2 separate regions of the Homo sapiens genome follow, and region 1 is linked to region 2. The links come from fine-mapping of genetic effects on gene expression. A gene starts in region 2. The other region holds a variant in brackets. All regions are shown on one strand. Distances are between the middles of the regions.

Region 1 (11,867 bases), 38 kb before region 2:
ATAAGGGAAAGGTGCTTAGAAGAGTACTTGGAAGAAAATAAGTGTTCTAGATGGGTTTTCTATTATGAGGAACTCCCCTCCCCGCCCCGAAGTATATTCCTGAGAGATGTTACCTGGCATTTATCTGACTCCCAGGAAGGAGAACTAACGTCTTTATGAGTCAGTCTAGTTTAACTATTGGATGTTTCTAATCTAACCTTATAATAAGCTGAAATTTGCTTTCTCTAACTTCCCCACACCAATCACAGCTATATTTCAACACAACTTTTGCAGATAGCTACTCTGCCTCCCCTGGGTCTTCTTTTCTACATGGTTAATTGTTCATCAGATATTGCTCAGACCTATCTGTTAGTTCCCCTCCCTCACCCCCGCCCCACTCCAGTTTGCCATTATATCCTTTCAAATGCAGTGCCCAAAATAAAATCCAGAGGTCTATATAGGTTCTGATCAGCATAGAGTGCAGTCCACATTTTCTCTATGCTCCAGACTGTGAAAAACAACTGCATCTCTGTGTGAAAACAGAATCGAGATGAGAGGAGATCTGGAAACACAATCAAGGCCATCTAGGAGTTTCATTAGAAAAACATACTTTAAAAATTCAATTTCAAACCAATTTTTTTCTGGCTTCCCAGAACCGAGATGGAAAACAGTGAGCAGCCTAGACTGATGGAAATGTGCACGTCAAACAGTGTAGAGGTAGGGTGGGTGACGTTATGCCAATTCTTTTACTGCGAAACACTACAGACAGTAATGCCAGAGCTAGTGTGAAGGTCATGGACCGCATCCCACAGTCCAAGAAAAATGAATGATATTCCAACAGAAAGAGAAGAACAGAGCTAAATAAAACTCTTGACAAGTATCAGGGCCAATCCACAGCAAATTACTGTGAAACAGGAGGACACTGCTCCCTCCGGTGGGCACAGCTAGATCTTGCCTCATGCCTGGCCCCGGCCCTGATACCCTCTGGTTAAAGGGAACCTGAGCAAACAAACCCACCAGAGGGGAAGTAATCCATTTCTAAGGTAGAAATGTGATCACTCATTCAATATGTGACAGGAATGACGAGAAAAACCATTCTCTTACAGTGACCATCCTGGCTACCTGCAAAGTATGCTTAGAATTCTAGATCCCTTTGGAGTCTCGGTAAAGATCTCCCAAGGGCTGGCTGATGGGGACACGGGGATTTATTATTTTATTATTTATACTTTGTGGATGTTTAAAATTTTTCATAATAAAATCTTTTGAAAAAATCCTCAGGTAGCTATAACTTTTTAAAACAACTAGAGACCCATGATGACAGTCTAATAATCACATCTGTCCTCCTTTTCCCCCACACTGAAGATTTTTTTTTAAATTAGATGGTACTTTCACTACTAAACTAGTTGGGAAAACGTTGGTAATTTTTTATGTGGACACAGATCATACAAAAGATTACAGACCTAATAACTGAACAGAGAAATAAACTATCCAGAAAGAATTTGGACACTGAAAACTATGTTCAAACCTAGGTTGATGAATGAAATTGTCATCAAGCTAATATCTGGGTAAAGGGAAGGACGTTAATAAGTCTGGGAATCTTTAGCCAGGTTTCTTGTTTAGTCCACTGAGAAATGGACTTGTGATCATGGTCCTCAGACTCAAACCAAACCCCGTACAACCACACAGACAAAAGGGTAGCCAGGGCATTGATTAGGCAAATAGACTTTGACCTAGTTCTGGTCCGATGCATCTGTGAATTGACTTCCAATTTATTTATTAATACTTGAGTTAAAGTAAATGCTCCAGAATGAGCTGATGATGTTTCGTGTGCTGACACTTGGCTCCAGTCAGGGCCTCCAGGGGACCAGAACTCTTGAGCACCATTTCACATCCTTTTGGCCTGGCCACTTACCCCAGTCACTGGTGAAGGCAAGCAGTTCCACACAGGCATAACCTGACCTTGCCTCAGCCCAGACACTGGATCTGTAGCTTTTGCTCCAAGGCTTGTCTGACACCAGAGTCTGTGATGCCTGTGGAAAGCTGCTTGGCAGTCATGCATGCACAACCCATAAAGGTGGGCAATTACTACTTCTGAGGTTCCCTTTGGATGGCACGTTGTAGGTGAACAGGATTAAGAATCCCCATGTCCCCATCAGCCAGCCCTTGGGAGATCTTTACCCAGACTTCAAAGGAATCTAGAATTCTAAGCATACTTTGCAGGTAGCCAGGACGGTCACTGTAAGAGAAGAACGTTTTTCTCATCATTCCCATCACAGCTTGAGTGGTAAGTGCAGATCCAGCAGCAACACAATTAAGGTTCTCACCTGTGGTGGATTGGGATGAGGTACAGGTGGAAGGGAGAGGCTCTGGGTCAAGTGGTAACTATGGTCCTTGGACAATATGGAGGCAATTATAATTGTAAAGGAATGGGGAATTCACTGGCTTTTGTTAACTGCTTTGAAAGTCTCAAAATAAGAAAATGACAGGGTCATGTTAGACAACTATCAACTCAAGCCCACGGTGAAATAGAGCAATGGTTAAAAGAATTTGATCTCCTGCAGGCACAGGGAATACTGTCTTGAAGATTAAGACAACAGTTGACAAAGTCATAGAGGAGACAGAACGCCAAGCCTTCACAGATCTCCTATTTCAAAGTTAGAACCCTGATAGGAAAAGCTTAAAATCTTAAGAGCTGGGATAGGATAGACAAGTCTGAGAATATTGAGTCACTAGATTAATTTTCATCCTCTAGGAGAGCAAAGTCAGCCTTCTTCTCCTTGCTGGGGACATCAGCCTCATCTTGCCAGGAGACCCTGAAAATACCTCACCTGAATCTTGCTTTGCAAAGTGATGTCTGTCTTCCTCAAGGTCTCCTTCCATCTCCAATTAACTGACTCCATGATAACTGGAGTCAGGTTTTGGCTCAAGCAGGTGGGGAAATGTATCCCTGCTGCAGTAGGAAATAGTTTACTAAAGAAACTGAAGGACCTGGGGTATTAGACTGTTCTCACACTGCTATAAAGAAATACCTAAGACTGGGTAATTTATAAAAGAAAGAGGTTTAACTGACTCACAGTTCTGCATAGCTGCAGAGGCCTCAGGAAACTTACAATCATGGTGGAAGGCAAAGAGGAAGCAAAGACCTTCACAGGGTGGCGGGAGTGAGAAGTGTAAGCAGGGGAAATGCTGGATGCTTATAAAATCATCAGATCTCGTGAGAACCCACTCATTATCACGAGAACAGCATGGGGGAAACCTCCCCCATAATCCAGTCACCTCCCTCCCTCAACACATGGGGATTACAGGCCCCACCCTCAGCACATGGGGATTACAATTCGAGATGAGATTTGGGTGGGGACACAGAGCCAAACCATTCACCTGGGTAATGTATACAGGCAGGAACCTGGATAAGCTTGTGAAAGTGGATCTTGAGGATGTTGCACTAGGGTGGGTGAGTGGAATAGAAAGCTGGATAATGGTGAATTTATTGACCTGGGAGCACCCTTCCTTGATCAGAAAACTCAGTGTCCTGGCAAGGATACCTGTAGCAATACACTGCAAGAGTGATTTCTTGAGGCTTGGACAAAATAGTGGCCTATAATAAATAAAGTCCAGAAGCTGCAACTTGCCTGGACTGGAGCTTGCCATAGCACTAAGGAAGGAGTCAGAAAGCTCAGGGATGTGAAAATATTAAAGATATTTATTTTTTCTTTTGATTATGTATTTATGACAGATTTCAGAAAGTTTTCATCAGGAATTCATAGAAGCAAAATGTAATTAAATTTCTACAAGCATTTATCTTCTTAAAAGTTTGTAGGGCCGGGTGCTGTGGCTCACGCCTGTAATCCCAACATTTTTGGAGGCCAAGGCAGATAGGATTGCTCGAGCTCAGGAGTTCAATACCACCTAGGTAACATGGAGAGACCCTGACAACAAATTTTAAAAGAGCCAGGCATGGTGGCACACACCTGTAGTCCCAGCTACTCGGGAGGCTGAGGTGGGAGAATCACCTGAGCCCAGGAGACTAAGGCTGCAATGAGCTGTGATTGTGCCACTGCACTCCAGCCTGGGTGACAGAAAGAGACCCTGTCTCAAAAAAAATAAAGTTTGTAGGAAACACAGATAGATCTCACTTTTCAAAACTGAATTCCATCAAGCTCTTCAATTTTTGTCATCCTCCTCAAATGACGTATATTGGCAAATAAGGCACAATTTATTCTTGAACAGTAGTAACTAACTTTTTTTTTTTTTTGAGAAAGAGCCTTGCTCTGTCGCCCAGGCTGGAATGTAGTGGCACAAACTCAGTTCACTGCAGCCTCCACCTCCCAGTTCAAGCTATTCTTCTGCCTCAGCCTCCTGAGTAGCTGGGACTAAAGGTGCCCACCACCACACCTGGCTAATTTTTTGTAGTTTTAGTAGAGACGGGGTTTCACCGTGTTAGCCAGGATGGTCTCGATCTCCTGACCTCGTGATCCGCCCACCTCAGCCTCCCAAAGTGCTAGGATTACAGGCGTGAGCCACTGAGCCCGGCTGTAACTAACTTTTAAGAGATTTAATTTTATTGTGGTAAAATATACAGAACATAAAATTTGCCATTTTAAGTGTACAGTTGAGTGGCACTAAGTATATTCTCACTGTCATGCAACCATTCCCACCATCCATCTCCAGAATTTTTTTTATCACCCTAAACTGAAACTCTGTTCTCATTAAACAATAACTTCCCAATCTACTATTCCCCCAGACCCTGGAAACCTCTATTTTACTTTCTGTCTCCATGAATTTGTTTGTTGTAAGTACTTCATATTAATGGAATCATACAATATTTTTCCTTTTGTGGTTAGTTTAGTTAGCATAATGTTTTCAAGGTTCATCCTTGAAAGGATGATGTAGGAGATACCCAAATTTCTTGTCTTTAAAAAGATGAATAATATTCCATTGTATGTGTATACATCCATTCGTCTGTTTTGACATTTGAATTGTTTATGCCTTTTGGCTTTTGCAAATTAACACTTCCGTGGACGTTGGTGTACAAGTATCTATTTGAGTCTCTGCTTTTAATTCTTTGGGGGCATATACTTAGGAGTGGAATTGCTAAATCATATGGTAATTCTCTGTTTAACTTTTTGAAGAACCACCAAACTGCTTTCCATTGCAGCTGCACAATTTTATATTCCCACCAGCAATGCACAAGAGTTCCAATTTCTCTACATTCTTGCCAACAACTGTTATTTTCCTTTTTAAAGAAAACAGTGGGGCGTGGTAATCCAAGCACTTTGGGAGGCCAAGGCGGGGGAATCATTTGAGGCCAGGAGTTTGAGACCAGCCTGGACAACATAGAAAGAATGTATCCCTACAAAAAAAAATTAAAATAAAAGAATTTAGCTGGCATGGCGGTGCATGCCTGTAGTCCCAGCTACCCCAGAGGCTGAGGTGGAAGAATCACTGAAGCCAGCCCAGGAGTTTGAGGCTGCAGTGAGCTATGAGTGCCACTGCATTCCAGCTTGGGTGACAGAGCAAGACCCTGTCTCTTTTTCCTCAAAAGTGAAACAAAACAACGTGAAAATCCTAACAGGTGTGAAGAATTTAGAAATTTCTTTTACTATTAATTCTTCAAACATTTTTCTCCCTCCTTTTTCCTTTCCTTCTTTTACTTCAGATGCACACATGATATTGTTCTCCAGCTCACTGATGTGCTGTTTCTCCATCTTTTCTCTGTGCTTCACTTTGGGTAGCTTCTTTTCCTGTGTCATTATGTTCACTGTTCTTTTCTTCTGCAGTGTCTAATCTGCTATTATATCTATCCAGTGTATTTTCAATTTTGGATGTTGTATTTTTATCACTAAAAGCTTGAGTTTAGTCCTTTATAAATCTTCTATTTCTTATAACTTTCACGTCCTTTCATCTCTTTATATAAGAAACATATTTCTTTCTTTCTTTCTTTTTTTTTTTTTGAGACAGTGTCTCACTCTGTCACCCAGGCTGGAGTGAGTGGCACAATCTCAGCTCACTACAGCCTCAACCTCCTCAGCTCAGGCGATCCTCCCATCATAGCCTCCCAAGTAGCTGGGATACAGGTGTGCACCACCACACATGAATAATTTTTTGTATTTTGTGTAGAGATGGATTTTCACATTGCCCAGGATGGTCTTGAGCTCCTGGGCTCAAGCAATCCACCCGCCTCAGCCTCCCAGAGAGCTGGTATTACAGGTGTGAACCACCAGGCCTAGCCAACATATTTCCAATAGCTATATTAACCTTCTTGTCTGATAATTCCATAGTCTCTGTTGTTTCTGGGTCTGAGTCTTGTGACCAATTTTTCTCTTGACTGTTCTTCATATTTTCTTTTTCTTCATATGTCTATTAATTTCAGATTAGATTCTAGATATTGTAAAGTTTACATTGTTGGGTGCTGAAATTCTGTATTTCTTTGAAGAGTGTTGAATCTTTTCTGTTGGACTTTTACTTGCAGATTAGTTTGATCCTTTTGAGGTATGTTCTAGGCTCTTTTAGCGTGTTCTAGAGTAGCATTTATTTGAGAAATAATTTAGCCCCACTTCAAACTGTTGCCTTTCCAGGATTTTTACTGAATGTCGTGTGTATTCACCAAGGTCTGTTTACTCTGACTAGAGGGAACTCAAATGATTCCCAGCTCTGTGTGAACTCTGGTTATTGGTTATTTGTCTCACAGCTTACACAGAA[C/T]TATTCTTTCCTTGAAAGTTGTTCTTGTCCAGTCCTATGGGATTTCATCCTATTCCTGACTAGTTTGGTGTTCAGGCAAAGAATCAAGAGTCTCACCGTTGCCCAGGCTGGAGTGCAGTGGCACCATCATGGTTCACTGCAACCTCTGCCTCCCCAGGCTCAGGGGATCCTCCCCCTCAACCTCCCAAGTAGCTGGGACCACAGGTGTGCACCACCACACCCAGCTAATTTTTTGTATTTTTTGTAGAGACAGGATGTCGCCATGTTACCCAGGCTGGTCTCAAATTCCTGGGCTCAAGCGATCTACCCACCTCAGCCTCCCAAAGTGCTGGGATTACAGGTGTGAGCCACTGCACCCAGCCAAAGATTTCTTGAGAGCTCTCCTCTCAAGTAATGCTATGGTTTGAGTGTTTGTCCCCTCTGAAACTCATGTTGAAACTTAATCCCCACTGTAACAATATTAAGCGGGGGGCGGTGGGGGAGGAATTCAACTATAGTATTTGAGAGGCGGCACCTTTGGATGTCATTAGAATGAGATAAAGTCACGAGTGTGGGACATGAGTGGCTTCGTGAGGAGCTAAGCTAGCATGCTTAGCTCCTTCTCTATGCCCTACACCACCTCGGGACTCTGCAGAGATTGCCTACCAATAGGAAGGCCCTCCAGATGCACCCCCTCAACCTTGGACTTTCAGCCTTCAGAACTGTGAGAAATAGATTTCTCTTCATGATAAACTAAGTAGTCTCAGGTATTTGGTTATAACAACAGAAAATGGACTTAGACAGGTGCTCTGCCTTATAAATCATAGCTACCTTGGTCTTCTTGAACTATAATCTCTGTTCAATTCAATGACAACACTTTGTATAATTTCATCTCCCTGAATCACAATCTTGGAGCTACCTGCAGGCAGAAAGCCTACACCAGGGTGTATTTTGCCCCTTTCGTTTCCTTTTCATGGGGATCACAATCTCGTTGGACTCTTACCCAATGTCTTAAAATAGTTTTTTTCCTACATTTTGTTTAGTTTTCTAGTTGCTTACTTTCAAAATGTAATTGCAGGCTGGCTTACTCCTTCATGATTGAAAGCAGAAGTTTTTGAAAAGGATTTTTAGTGTCAGCTCAGGCTCAGGTAGAACGACCTGTTGGTAATGACACTGTCCTCCAAAATATTGTATATATGTGCTAAAACAATAGCTGATACATGGTGTTATGTTCCCAGTGTCTAGCAACATTGGTCCAGGAAACATGAGGTAGAAGTAGGATTGCCCCCCTCACCATCACTTCTCATGATCCACTTAAAAGTGTTGTGCATTTCCCATCAAATGAGCCTAGGTTCTGCTGAATTAATTGTCCCACTTTCAGGTGGGTGAATGTACGCACTAGCAGAAATGATAGCGCTTCCATTCACCTTAAAGTGTGATTATTGTTTTTGAATTTTGGGTTCCTCATGGCAGTAGACCAGCAAGAAAAAAGAGGTGTTCCTATGCTGAAAAGAGTAATCGACTCTGATTACCATGAAGAGCTAAGGCTGCTGTTACATTATGTGTGCAGGAAGGACTGTGTCTAGGACATAGAAGATTCACAGGGACATCTATTGATGATTCCATGACTGGTGATGGTGGATGGGCAATCGCAGTGATCATGACTTTACAAGGTCAACTAAAGGCTCAGACCCCTCAGAGGTAAAGTTTTGAGTCAGCCATCAGGAAAGCAACCTACATCAGCCAAATAATTGGCTAAGGTTAAGGGAAATCTAGAGCAAATGGTGGAAAATGGAGATGACAAGTACTATTTATGGATTTGGAACCTGTTGCATCAGCAGGGAATGTAACTTGTTCTATTCACCTTCCTGTATTTAGTGTTTGTAGGATTTGGAGCTAGCCACTCTCTAGAAGAAGACTCTGGGCAGACTGGACTTAATGCAGAGCACAAAAGTCCTAAGAAGTGCAAAGGTGAAACGTAATGGAAATCTGTTGTGGTTTCCAAACATGTTCTCAACTTCTTTGATGTTCCTTCCTTCAAAAAGTGAAGCTAGGCTGGAAGCGGTAGCTCACACCTGTAATCCTAGCATTCTGGGAGGCCGAGGCGGGTGGATCACGAGGTCAGGAGTTCAAGACCAGCCTGGCCAATATGGTGAAACCCCGTCTCTACTAAAAATACAAAAATTAGCTGGGCGTGGTGGCGCACGCCTGTAGTCCCAGCTACTCGGGAGGCTGAGGCAGAAGAATTGCTTGAACCCGGGAGGCGGAGGTTGCAGTGAGCCAAGATTGTGCCACTGCACTCCAGCCTGGGCAACAGAGCGAGACTCTGTCTCAAAAAAAAAAAAAAAAGGAAGCCTAATTCCCTTCTCCTTGAGTGTGAAATGTACCTAGTGATTCACTTCTAAATAATAAAAGGTGGTGGAAGTGACAGCGGGTGATTTCCAAAACCAGGTCATAAAAGACATTGTGACTTTTTCCTCCCCCCATAATCACTCACTCTGGGGGATGCCATGTGCCATGTTACAAGGACACTCAGCAGACCTACTGTGAGGCCCATGTGGCAGGGACACTGGAGCCTCCTGCCAAGGGCCATGTAATGCACCACCTTGCAAGTGGATCTTTCAGCCCCAATCAAGTTTTCCGATGAATGCAGCCTTGGCTTGAAATATTGAATATAATGTCATGGCAGACCCTGAGCTAGAACCAGCCAGCTAAGTGACTCCTGAATTCCTGACCCACAGGAATTGTGGAGAATAGCTGTTCGTTTGTTGTAAGACACTAAGTTTGGAGGGTAATCTGTTAAGCAGCAATGAGTAACTAACACAATACTTCTGGAGCACTTTCCATCCTCTTGTTTGACTCTTGGTTCTGCATAGGCTTTGACCAGCTACACACAGGTGCAATCTGAAGCATGCCACATCAGCCCATGCATGCTGTGTACTCTAGCTCCCTACCCTGGGAATTCTCTAAGGTGCAGGGCACCTGCAAGAGGGCTTTAAGCACTGACACAAGGAGAAAGAAGCCAACAGATAAATGTTTTCCCTTCCACCACCCAGGTGTTAGGTTCTGAAGTAGATTTCAGAAAACTCCTCAACGGTCCTGACAGGCTTGTACAACAGTTGCTCAGTTGTAGCCAATGTGATCATGTGTTTTTGTTTTTACCTCACTTTTTATTATAAAAATGTTCAAGCATACAGAGAAGTTGAAAGAATGCTACAGTCAAAACCCATATATCCCTATCTAGATTGTACAACTAATATCTTATTCTATTTCTTTTATCATACGTATATCCATTTATCTATTATTCTATCCATCTACTAATCTATTTTATTTTTAATGCATTTCAAAGTACTTTTCAGATAACAGTATAATTCACCCTTAACACTTCAGCATGCATATCATTAACTAAACTTCAGTATTCATTTATGATGTCTTTCTTTTAAGGCAAAATTTATATTCAATAAAATGAACACTTGTAAGTGTACCATTCAGTAAGTTTTGAAAAGTACATTGACATGTGTAACCCAAACTCCTTTGAAGATGTAGAGGAACATTCCCTCATGCCTGCTCTCTGTCAACTCCTACTTGTACGCCCACATCTGCACAGATCACTATTTTGATTTTTCTTCATTGCAGATTAGTTCTGCCTATTCTAGAACTTTAAATAGGAAAATACCATATTATTTTGCGTAAGGCTTTTTTCACCCAGCATGCTTTAATATTTACCCATATTATTATATCAATACTCTATTCCTTTTTATGGCTGGGCAATATTCCATTGCATGAACATACCACAGTTTTTTTATCCATTCTTCTGTTAATGGGCTGTTTCCAGTTTTTGTTTTGTTTTGTTTTGTTTAGAAACAAGGTCTTACTGTATCACCCAGGGTGGGTGATTATAGGTCACTGCAGCCTTGAACTCCTGGGCTCAAGTGATCCTCCCACCTCAGCCTCCTAAGTAGCTAGGACTACAGATGTGTGCCACCATGCCTGGCTAATGTCTTTATTTTTTGTGAAAACAGGGTCTTGCTATGTTCCCCAGGCTGGTCTCGAACTCCTGGCCTCAAGCGATCTTCCTATCTGAGGTTCTCAAAGTGCTAGGATTACAGGCATGAGCCACCGTGCCTGGCCTGTTTCCAGTTTCTGACTATAACACATAATGCTGCTTGCTGTGAACACTCTTTTTTTTTTTTTTTTTTTTTGAGACAGAGTCTTGCTCTGTCACCCAGGCTGGAGTGCAGTGGCGCGATCTCTGCTCACTGCAAGCTCCACCTCCTGGGTTCATGCCATTCTCCTGCCTCAGCCTCCCAAGTAGCTGAGACTACAGGCGCCTGCACCACGCCCAGCTAATTTTTTGTATTTTTAGTAGAGACGGGGTTTCACCATGTTAGCCAGGATGGTCTCGATCTCCTGACCTCGTGATCCGCCCGCCTCAGCCTCCCAAAGTGCTGGGATTACAGGCGTGAGCCACCACGCCAGGCCATGAACATTCTTAAACAAGTCTGTTTATATACAGATATTTTCATTTCTGCTGGGCAAATATCTAGGAATGAAATTGCTGGGTCATAGAAAGTGTGTGTTTAGTTTTTTAAGAAAGTGCCAGACCTTTCCAAAGTTGTACCAATTTACACCCCTACCAACAATTGATGAGAGCTCTGACTGTTCCACACCCTCACCAACATTTGTTGCTGCAGTCTTTTTAATGTAGCCATTCTAATAGGCATCTAGTAGGTATCTCGTGGTGGTTTTCATTTGAATTCTGGTGACTAGTAACACTGAGACCTTTCATGTGCTTGTTGGTCCTTCCTCTGTTGACAGTGCATGCTTGCAGTGGCTTTTCTTCCTCCCCTGCTTTACTCTCATTCCTTACTCCTGATCCCTAGTATCATTTTGCAAATAAACTACCTGTCTATGAGTTTTTGTTTTGGCTTAAGTTTAGGCATATCCAGGCTAAGATATATAGAAGCAGCTGGGTGAGCAAAGAAGGTATAACCCCACCCCTAACCTCATCCCCACCCCTGTGAAAAGGGCAAAGAGGATGCTTCTCTATTCTGGTGAAATTTCGCCCCTTATCGGTTAATAGGTGTGCTTCCACACAATGTCTGTGGGAGGGATCCAGAAAACTGCACCTCTGGCTGGGAATATTCTACACTGACCACATGCAGATACATTTTTATATCCTTTCCCATGAAAAAGAAACTTATGTCATT
Region 2 (11,867 bases):
CACCATGTCGTCCAGGCTGGTCTCGAACTCCTGGGCTCAAGTAATCCGCCTGCTTTGGCCTCCCAAAGTGCTGGGATTACAGGTGTGAGCCGCTGCACTGGGCCCAGCCTCAAAGTGGGTTTCTGATAGCAGATTTCAAGGCTGTAATTTCTGAAGAGAATAGGGAGAGTAAATATTCTGTATTTCCAATGAAATGCAGGTCCTTACTTTTTGCCAACTTCCAGGGCAGGGTACAGAAATGAGATCCTCCTGTGAAAATTAAATGTTATTTATTTATGGTTACACGCGTGATGAAAGTTAGGGGAACTGCCACTACCAAGAAAGCAAGAACTGAAGGTTGTTTTTTTTTGCTGAAACTTGAACAAAGGATGTAGGGCAAAGAAGAAAAGTTATTAGATATTTGAGACATATTTTGTAGTTTGATTTTAAATTTAACACAAGAAAGAGATTTCTGATTACACGAAAATTTAAGAATTTAGAAAATTATTAAATTTAAGCATTGACTCACAAAATTTAAGAAAATTTAAGCACTGACTCACAAAAAAGCTAAGCTCCTTTTATCTGACTTTAAAAATAAATAAAAAATACATCTTGTTAAGATAATAAACATATAATGCCAGGAATCCAAATCCTACTCTTTTTCAAGCCTTGATTAAATGCTGCCACTTTCAAAAATATGTAGCCATTCTCAATTTATTATGGCACTTGAATATTTCCTCTTATATAATTTTTCACTTTCTTCTTAGAGTTGCATATGTCTTACTGTCATACTGGAGTGTAATCCTCTTGAGGGCAGGAATAGTCTCCAGACTCCTGCTTAGGCTTAAGATGGTGCTTTGCCCATAACCAGCACTTACTAAAAACTCCTCTATGAACTAATGAAAATATCATGTATCTCATTACGTGGTCAGTTTAAAGTTAAATGGATTCTTTTAGACACTCAAAGCAATAAAGCTTCTTCTTAAAAGAATTACCAGATACAATAAACTGTAAAAAATTGTTCAAATATTGAAACATGAATTAGAGATGACTTTAACCTGATTTGTTTATACTAGTTACTTTTCTTTTTTATTTATTTATTTTATTTTATTATTATTTTTCAGACAGAGTCTCACTCTGTCGCCCAGTCTGGAGTGCAGTTGCACGATCTCGGCTCGCTGCAACCTCCGCCTCCGGGTTCAAGCAATTCTCCCGCCTCAGGCTCCCAGGTAGCTGGGCTTATAGGGACCCACCACCACACCCGGCTAATTTTTGTATTTTTCTAGTAGAGATGGGGTTTCACCATGTTGGTCAGGCTGGTCTTGAACTCCTGACCTCAGGTGATCCACTCGCCTGGGCCTCCCAAAATGCTGGGATTACAGGCGTGAGCCACTGCACCTGGCCATTTATACTAGTTACTTTTCTTTTTCATTTTTTTATTGATACGAAATATTTGTATGTATTTATGGGGTGCATGGGATATTTTGATGCATGCATACAATGTGTAATGATCGTCAGGGTTATCAGGATACCCATCACCTTGAACATTTATCATTTCTTTGTATTGGGAACATTTTAAATCTTCTCTTCTACTCGACATCACTAATTAGCAGAGAAATTGCAAGTCAAAATGACATCACCTCACACCTGTTAGGATGACTATTATCAAAAAGTCAAAAGACAGCAAGTATTGGTGAAGATTAGAGAAATGGGGATGCTTGTACCCTATTGGTGGAAATGTCAATTGGTGCAGCCATTATTGAAAATAGTATAGAGAGGTTCCTCAAAAAATTAAAAATAGAACTACCATATGATCCACTAATACTACTATTGGGTATATTTCCAAAAGAAATAAAAATACTATCTCCAAGAAGTATCTGCAGTCCCATGTTAATTGCAGCATTATTTACAGAAGCCAAAAGATATGGTAACAATCTAAGTGTCCATCAACTGATGAATAAAAAAAGAAACTGTGGTGTGTATTCACACATACACACACACACACACACGGATATTATTCAGCCTTAAAGAAAAAGGAACTCTTACCATTTGCAACAACATGGATGTCTTAGAGAAGAGTATGCTAAGTGAAATAAGCCAGACACAGAAAGACAAATACTGCATGATCTCATATATATGTGGAATCTTAGAAATTAAAGTCAAACTCATAGAAAAAAAATCTTCTCTTCGGCTGGGTGCGGTGGCTCACGCCTGTAATCCCAGCACTTTGGGAGGTTGAGGCGGGTGTATCACAAGGTCAGGAGATCGAGACCATACTGGCTAACACAGTGAAACCCCGTCTCTACTAAAAATACAAAAAAATTAATGGGTGTGGTGGCGGGCGCCTGTAGTTCCCTTAGTCCCAGCTACTCAGAAGGCTGAGGCAGGAGAATGGCATGAATAAAAACACTAGCTCCACACAAGCTCCCGGGAGGCGGAGCTTGCAGTGAGCCGAGATCGTGCCACTGCACTCCAGCCTGGGCGACAGAGCAAGACTCCGTCTCAAAAAAAAGAAAAAAAGAAAAAAATCTTCTCTTTGGAAATACAGTCACCCTTCCGTGTTATCAAAAACTAGAACTTATTCCATCTTATCTGTTTGCTTGTACCCATTCACCAACCTGTCTTCACTCCCCCACCTCTACACCCTTCTGCTCTCTACCTCCATGAGATCAACTTCTTTAGCTCCCACATATGAGTGTGAACATGTGATTTTTGCCTTTCTGTGTCTGATTTATTTCACTTAACAAGATGGCCTCTAGTTCCCTGCATGTTGCTGCAAATGACAGGATTTCATTCTTTTTTATGGCTGAATAGTGTTCCATTGTGTATATATATCATATTTTCTTTACTGATCTGTTGATAGACTTTGGTTGATTTTGTATCTTGGCTATTGTGAATAGTGTGGCTATAAACGGGAGTACAAGAATCCCTTTGATACACTGATTTCCTTTCCTTTGGATAAATAACCAGTGGTGGAATTGATGGATCATATGATAGTTCTATCTTTAGTTTTCTGAGAAGCCGCCATACTGTTTTCCATAATGGGTGTATGGCTATACATTCCCACCAACAGTGTACTCATTACTTTTCTTTTTATCAGATGTCCGTAGCTGTAAGTGTCCTTTGGGCCAGAAGAAAAGTAGTAACCTAATAGTTGGCCTTCACATTGCAAAATTATCCCTTTGAACAGCAATCCCCAACCTTTTTGGCACCAGGGACTGGTTTCGTGGAAGACAATTTTTCCATGGACAGGGGTGGGGAATAGGTTTGGGATGATTCAAGCGCATCATATTTATTGTGCACTTTATTTCTATTATTATTACATTGTAATATATAATGAAATAGTTATACAACTCACCGTAATGTAGAATCAGTGGGAGCCCTGAGTTTGTTTTCCTGCAATTAGACAGGCCCGTCTGGGGGTGACAGGAGATAGTGACAGATCATCAGGCATTAGATTCTCACAAGGGGCACACAACCTAGATCCCTTGAATGTGCACAGTTCACAATTGTGCTCCTATGAGAATCTAATGCCCCAGCTGATGTGACAGGAGGTGGAGCTCAGGCGGCAATGCTAGTCATGGGGAGCGGATGTAAATACAGATGAAGCTTCCCTCATTTGCTTGCCCCTTACTCAACTCCTGCTGTGCCACCAGGTTCCTAACAGGGTACAAAGGGTACTGGTTCATGGCCCGGGGTTGGGGACCTCTGCCTTTGAAGATACCCAACCAGTTTCTTCCTCCAAAACCATTATTGGAATGGTGGATTGTATTATTGTACCCAGTTATTTCTTGTTCTTCTTTTAAGGATATTATTCAGCTCACTTATTGTTGATAGGGACAGTAGACAGGGAACTACTGGGTAGAATAAGGCCGTTCCCTGGCAAAGGCCCCACCCTCAAGCCTGGAAACCCATGGCCCTAAATGAAGAGAGGCATTCCCGTTCTTGTGCCCAAAAGTTACCTTTTGGCCCTCCATGACCCCCTATCCTGTACCCGTATAAACTCCAGACACCAGGCTCCAGCAGCAAAAGATGAGCAGATGAACAGAAGAGCAGAAGAGCAGAAGAGCCGCAGATAAAGAGAAAAGAGAAGGAATATTGGGTGGAGTTCAGCTGGGGACAGTTAGAGAATCCACCGCTGGACGGTTAAACTCCAGGGGAAGATCATCTCCCTACTCCACCCCCTTTCCAGCTCCCCATCCATCCTACTGAGTGCCACCCCTACCACCTAATAAACACCCCCAACCTTCCCCCAACTCCTCTACCCCCGCCCCCACCCCGGCACTCACCATCCTTCAAGTCCATGTGTGACCTGATTCTTCTGGGAGGTGAGACAAGAGCTGAGATACAGAAACTGTCACACTGACCCTCTGCGCTTGCAAAAAGGCAGAGGGTCTATTGAGCTGGTTAACACTTAAGCCGTCAGCTGATGGTAAGGCTAAAAGAGCACACTGTAACACACGCCCATTTGGGCTCCGGGAATCACGGGATCCTGCCCCTGGACACTGCCGTGGGGCTGGAAGCCCAGCGCCCCAGCTTTTGCACCCTGGCTCCTGCACCCGTCCGTCTGCATGCTCCACCTCCCATAAGGGGTTTCAGCAGGCAGAGACCGAACACACGAGCCACAACCCTGTTGCACGTCCTGCAAAGGGCTGTGGGAGGGCGGGGGCCGGGAGGAAATCAGGGAACTCTCCTGTTTCATTGTCACAAGACTTGCAAGGCTTCCTTAAGAGAGGGGTACACTTCCCCACCCACTGACAGCAAGTTTTGACCAATAGAAAGTGAGCAGAACTGAGGCATGCGGAATGTGAGTTTGGAAAGCAGCTTGTGCCAGTCATGTACAGGAGCTAATTGTTAAATTTCCAGGAACTTGGCAAGCCACTTGTTGGACTGTTTGTAGCTTGAAATCGGCCATTGTGGGAGCATTTACATCATAGAAATAGCAAACACTACATATCTGGACTTCCCCCTTCTCCCTCAAAGTTGGTTTACCAGCCCAGCAGGGAGCATGGCCCAGAAAAGTTGACCTTTCAGCCTGGAGTGAAGAAAACTGGTGGAGTACTGCCAAAGCTCCCTGCAGCCACAGTAATTCGCTTGAGAAATGGACCTTTAAGCCACTGAGTTGCAGGGGTTGTTCGTTACCTGAGCATCATCTAGCCAAAGCTGGTACACCATGCTGGTGTTTTGGTGAACACCAATAAGCGCCGCCTTCATCTGTCCCAACCTAGGTTGGAGGGATTTCTTCCAATAACTTGTGACATCATGCGCCTACAGCCTGCAAAGATGCAAACCGCGCTCTGAGACTCAGGCCCGGGAATTCAGGTCTTGGAAGGTTAATGCAAAGTTGTAAAACAATAGTTACATTTCAACCACACTCAGCTATTGCGTCATCTTAAAACCCTGGCCAACACAAATCTGTCGCTCGCGATCCTTGGCGGTTTCAGAGCGACTCCCCTACCGCTTTCGGGCGAAGGCCACACGTGACGGCCCCCCTTTCCCCGCAGACGTGTGAATGCAGCGCTGTGTCTTTAAGGGGCACGCGCGGAGGTTTTCCGTCCGGGACAAAATGTCAGCGAGGCGCCTGGAGGGGGATCTACCATCTCGGACTCCCGACCCGCCGCCGGCTCCGGCCGCGTTTCCCGGGTAAAGGGGTGAGTGTGGGCTTCCAGACTCGGTGGCGAGGCGGGCTGGGCCGGGCAGCGGGGAGCGCAGGTGAGCAGCGACCGCGGACGCCCCTGCCGGCCTCCCTGGCACCCGCGCGGGGCGTGCCCTTCGCTGGGCTGCCCTTCTCCGGGCCGGCTGTCGCGACTGTGAGAAAGCAGGTGGGCCCGGGATTCTGTGGCAAGGCCCCGCTCACCGTCTTCCAGTGCCTCATTCTTGCTCCTTCCCTGCACTCCTCTTTCGACAAGCTTGTTCGGAATGTGGAAATTCGTCACCACTCTCCTGCTCTCCCTTTATTAAAGTTGTCTGATTACAGTCTTTTCACTGGGCAAGTGACTGGACGCCCTGCAGTGGGTTCTTTCTGTAACTGGGACTTGCTTGATGTCGCCCACTTTCGGAGGGAGAAAGCGAATGCAAGCCAAAAGCTTACACCAGAATCCCCACCCCTCCCCCACCCCTCATGGCCCCCAAACAAAAGAATTTTCCGCTCCTTTCGGAGTCCGCTGGAGCAGTTTCTGTGATTTCTTGCACGAACCAAATGCCCGAGGCTTAGCAAAGCAAAAACCCCCTTGAAGGAAAAAAATAAATACTTACCACTAGTCGAATTTCTAATGAGCCAAGACTACAAAGATAAGGTGTTTAAGAGAAACAGTTGTAGAAACAGCTTAATACATTGACCTAATTAGGGTAATTATTTTCTGCTGTTTTTATTCATATGCTGACACCTTTTGGAGGCAAGAATAGCTTGAGGCAGCCAAGAATAAAAAAAAAAGTAGACAGCAATACGTATTATAAAAAGACCAAAAGCCCAAGCCAGGTAATTCTCAATTTAAAAATTAAATTAAAAAAATCTTTGAGTCACAAAGGCCTTCAAAGTAGGGCAGCTTTAAATTCCTATAACTCAGATTAAATTATGCATTTTTACAAGATAAAATGGATCACCACCTTAATCTTTAGGACCATATCTATTAAGCAAAGTAATGCAGACCTGAAATAAAGGTCCACTTTAAGGGCAGAACACTTCACAATTTTCATTTTTAAAAGTGCATTAATAGAGAGAGAGAGTGCTTCTCTGCCTTTTAGCTAATGGTAGAAATATCTAAGAGTTTGGCTTATGCCATTTAGGAAACAACTCTGATTCACCCCTTAATTACCTGTGAGTCCAGTGTATTTTTTACAGTCCACATATAACCTTTTTCTAAATTTTTACACATTTTACCATTTATTCCCCAACTCAGGTTTTACAGTTTGGAGGCATTTTTACTTGTCTTTTAACTTCAGCTAAGCCTTCAGCCTGGTGATTCCAGACTAATTTTTCTAATTGTCTGGATCTCTTTATAAATAGATTAATATATGGCAGTAAACTAATATTTCAACAGAGATGGACGGATAACAGATGAACTGTGGTTTTCTTGACACTTCAGTTGTCAACTCTAATTACTTGTATTAATTATTATGCTCTGCTTTCATTAAAGTCACTGGTGGATGAAGTAAAAGAAAATGTTTTTAGTGTTTCCACATATGTCTGTGTGAATTTCACGTTAGTGTGAATTTCTCATCTAAGATCCAGGCTCAACCAACATATATTGATTTAAACTCTGCCTGGTCAACCCAACTACAGTAAGTAGCCTTGAGTATAGAAGGACAAATAGAGGTGTAGTTAATCTGCTATGTCCTTTTGAGAACAGTGCCTGGTTCTTTGGCCTTTAGCCTGCCAAATATTTTTTATGTGCACAAGCATAAGTATAAAATAATACAATCAACTTTTGTAGGTGCTTTATAGGATGAGTCTCAATATTATAGTCATACCTTGTGTATATGCCCATGTTTATACAGATTATTCATCCAGGTTTTGATCTCTTCCTTTATTCTTTATATTGGTATTCAGGGACATCATACTGAGGAATCTGGGATTTAATCTGATAGTTCATCAGAAGGATAGAACTTCTTCAGAAATTGAGTCAAATGGAGAGATAATTAATGTGAATTTATTGTCTTCCACAGGCTTAGATTTAAGAACTCCTTCCAAATAATGGATACTCAAATGAAACTCAGCTATAGCAAGTGCAGAGGCATGGTACCAGCAACACTACTCTCTCTCCTTCCTTGAAATATCTAAAATCTACATTTGTCTTTTCAGTTTTTTTCACCCTGAAATTACACTCAAAAATTTCCACTGTTAATTTCATGTTAGCAGTGCTTTTATTTAGCTTCAAGAAACTTTCTTTTAAAATAGGAGCTTGGAAGCCTCGTTATACAACTGAGGAACTGGAACTTCATTAGAGTCGAGTACTAAGGGTAATGTGTTTTGGTGATGGACAACAATGCGTTTGTGCCCTGTGGGGCATGGGAGGGGAAGGGATGCTGAACTGCATGAACTTTTGTGTTAGGGCCCCTAAGACATCAGCTCCCAGGAGCTGCCCATGCCCACCCCTTCCCCAGTGGAGATTATGTGACGGAATTCACCCGAAGGAGTGAGCACTGATTTCACCTTTACCACAGTGTGTTAGTAATCTGTTTTCGCGCTGCTGATAAAGACATACCCAAGACTGGGCAATTTATAAAAGAAAGACGTTTAATGGACTTAAAGTTCCACGTGGCTAGGGAGGCCTAACAGTCATGGCGGAAGGCGGAAGGCGAAAGGCACTTCTTACCTGGCTGCGGCATGAGCTATAATGAGGGTCAAGCGAAAAGGGCTTCTCGTTTATAAAACCATCAGATCTCGTGAGATTTATTCACTAGCACAAGAACAGTATGGGAGAAACCGCGCTCGTGATTCAATTATCTCTCACCAGTTCCATCCCACAACACGTGGGAATTATGGGAGTAGGATTCAGGATGAGATTTGGGTGGGGACACAGCCAAACCATATCACACAGGTATCAGAATTATTGTTGGAAGCATCTCTTTCCCAACCAGACCGTACGCTTCCTGAGGGCAAAGACTATGTGACGTTCCTCTTGGAATGCTTGGCAGAAAGCACGCACCTGACCTTAGCAGGTGCACAATGAGCATTTGAATGAGAGTTGGATGGAGTGAATGGATGTAAGCAAAATACTCATTCATTGGCATCTTTGTGTTAGTTTAAAAATTTTTTCAAGGAAAAATTAAGGGAGCTTTTTTCATTTTCTTATTAGCTAACCACAGAATTAATGATATGCATTCTCATTGGGTATTTGGTAAGGAAGAAACGCGTTATCACAGGGCTTTGGCTAATTAAACCTCCCCATTATCTTATTTTACCCTAGTGATAAATAACCTATTTTGCATGAAGTTCAATTTAGGAAGTGAAAATAAATTTAAGGGGTAAGGGTCTTGGATCTGTTACTCTTTTTTATTTGCTCTTTGTAGTCAATTCCCAAGGGGATTCCTCCAACTTAGACTACTTACTCTGTTGAATAACATAATGTCAGATGGAAAAACAACTGCCTTTTAGCCATTAAAATCTTAACGTGGGCATGTCTGAGCAGTAAATATCGGTAGTTTCTTTATTGTTCATGTCTTAAATTTATATAACACCGGAGAGTCCAACAGTGACATCATTTGCACTATCTATGATCTCAGCCACCTGTTTAGAGGCAAATAATCTTATTATTTCTCTTGACAGATGGGAAGATTGAGACTCGGGTGGGCTGGGGCTAAAGAAACAGAGTCAGGTTCACTTCACTTAATGCAGCATCCCCCAAGTGTCTACCCTGTGCCAGGGAGATGAATGGGATGAGCTCCTCTTCCATGACATCCTGGGTGTGAACACAGAATCTCCTTCTGCAGAGCACAGCAAACCACGTGACAATGAGCAGCCTCACATGCTGGGTTTCCTCCTCCAAGCGGCGCAGCAGTGGGCTTCCCCATGGGACTGTCCCACCAGCCTCCACAGTTAAGGCTGGGCTGGCCCTGCCTGAGCTCACATGCTTGAGGAGCCAAGGGTTGTTTTGCTTTTTTGTTTTTGTTTTTTGTTTTTCTGAGATGGAGTTTCGCTCTTACTACCCAGGCTGGAGTACAATCGTGCAATCTCGGCTCACTGCAACCTCCGCCTCCCAGGTTCAAGCGATTCTCCTGCCTCAGCCTCCCGAGTAGCTGGGACTACAGGCACCCACCACCACGCCTAGCTAATTTTTTGTATTTTTAGTAGAGACGGGGTTTCACCATGTTGGCCAGGCTGGTCTTGAACTCCTGACCTCAGGTGATCTACCTGCCTTGGCCTCCCAAAGGGCTGGGATTACAGGTGTGAGCCACCACACCCAGGCCCAAGGGTTGTTTTATAAAATTATTTTTTATTTATGTAGAGATCCTGTGATATACACACTTTCCCTAAATGTATACACGTGATCACATGCATGCTTTCTTAGTACCTCATTGCTTTTACTTTTGTGTTTACCTCTTCCCCTTCTCCCTCCTTTCACATCAGTTACCATTGCCTCAACCATAGTATCTCCTTATTTTTCTTCATCTATAGCTATATATTGCCTCTACAGATATGTATATTACTTAATAATAGTGGGATCATATTATACACTCTTCTGCATCTCTCTTTTCTCCCTGAACAGTTCCTCCAGATATCCTTGTAAGACATTGAACAGAACTTCATCCTTTTCCTCTTTAATGGCTGTATAATATTCCCTGGTATGAACATATGTTATATACTCAGCCATTTTCCTGGTGGTAGGCATTCCCTTGCTTCCAGTTTCTTGTCATTCTACATGATTCTGATGTAGATTCTGATGTCATTCTACGTGAACATCCTGATACAAGACTGTGTTTATTGGTGCTGATAGTTCTATAGAAGAGATCCCCAGGAGTAGAATCTCAGGTTATCTTTTTTTTTTTTTTTTCAATACAGCATTTCGCTGTTGTCACCCAGGCTGGAATGCAATGGTGCTATCTCGGCTCACTGCAATCTCCACCTCCCAGGATCAAGCCATTCTCCTGCCTCAGCCTCCCAAGTAGCTGGGATTATAGGCACCCGCCACCATGCCCAGCTAATTTTTGTATTTTTAGTAGAGACAGGGTTTCACCATGTTGGCCAAGCTGGTCTCGAACTCCTGACCTCAGGTGATCCACCTGCTTGGAACTCCCAAAGTGTTGGGATTACAGGCGTGAGCCACCGAGCCCAGCCTCTATTTTTAATTAATATAGAAATTGCAGCTGGCCCTATCACACAGGTATCAGAATTGTTGGAAGCATCTCTTTCCCCACCAGATGGTACGCTTCCTGAGGGCAGAGACTATGTGACATTCCTCTTGGAATGCTTGGCAGAAAGCACGCACCTGACCTTAGCAGGTGCACAATGAGCATTTGAATGAGAGTTGGATGGAGTGGATGGATGTAAGCAAAATACTCAAATTCATTGGCACCTTTGTGTTAGTTTTAAAAAATGTTCAAGGAAAAATTGAGGGATCTCTTACTTTTCATTTTCTTCTTATTAGCTAACCACAGAATTAATGACATGCATTCTCATTGGGTATGCTCACGACTGTAATCCCAGCACTTTGGGAGGCCGAGGCAGGTGTATCACTTGAGCCCAGGTGTTCAAGGAAGACCAGCCTGGGCAACAGAGACCCTGTCTCTACAAAAAATACAAAAATTAGCCAAGCATGGTGGCATGCACCTGTAGTCCCAGCTACTTTGGAGGCTGAGGTGGGAGGATCACTTCTTGAGCCTGGGAAGCAGAGGTTGCAGTGAGCCATGATTGTGCCACTGCACTCCAGCCTGGGTGACAGAGCAAGACCCTGTCTTAAAAAAAATTAAAAAAAAAAAAAAAAGAAAGAAAGAAAAGAAATGGCCAGAATGCTTTCCTAAAATCCATCCCATCTTCACTAGTAATTGAGGAGTGTGCCTTTTCTCTACCTCCCTTGTAACTTTGGCTGTTAGACCTCTTAATGTTTCTTGGTGTGATGGATGTAAAACGATACCTTATTGCTACTTTAATAGCATTTCCCTGAATATAAGTGATGTTGTGCACCTTTTCATAAATTTCCTGGCCAGTGGAGCTGTTAGGTCATTTGCCTACTCATATTTCTCGTCTGTTTTTCTGTCGGTCTTTTTGTCTTTTTATTGTGTTTGAAGAGCTCTTTGTGTGTTACGGTTGTGGCTGAAGTGTCTGAAGAGGTTTCTCCCCCTCCACATTGCAGGGGCAGCTGAAATGCACTCGAGTTTTTTGTTTTTTGTTTATACTTTAAGTTCTAGGGTACATGTGCACAACGTGCAGGTTTGTTACATATGTATAC

Evidence for each region. PIP is the estimated chance that this variant, and not a neighbour inherited with it, causes the effect.
Region 1: its variant is fine-mapped to the expression of ZBED3-AS1 in thyroid (GTEx, PIP 0.96).

Annotation. Positions count from the first base shown.
Region 1 is chr5:77,118,649-77,130,515 of GRCh38, reverse strand. All of the region lies in intron 2 of ZBED3-AS1 (ZBED3 antisense RNA 1), which reads right to left. It overlaps LOC124901008 (a long non-coding RNA gene), which reads left to right. Exons shown (of 3, transcript XR_007058827.1): 2 at 633-696; 3 at 2,732-2,808. It also overlaps a transcript of PDE8B not described here. Among named protein-coding and RNA genes, the nearest start is that of ZBED3, 37 kb to the right of the region's middle. The variant C/T (reference allele first, on the strand shown) is at 6,679.
Region 2 is chr5:77,080,874-77,092,740 of GRCh38, reverse strand. ZBED3-AS1 (ZBED3 antisense RNA 1) reads right to left here and starts at 6,026. Exons shown (of 3, transcript NR_182763.1): 1 at 5,122-6,026. ZBED3 (zinc finger BED-type containing 3) reads left to right here and starts at 5,456. Exons shown (of 3, transcript NM_032367.4): 1 at 5,456-5,630. It also overlaps a transcript of PDE8B not described here. RefSeq lists enhancers at 3,993-4,593, 4,594-5,196, 5,197-5,798 and a silencer at 5,615-5,784.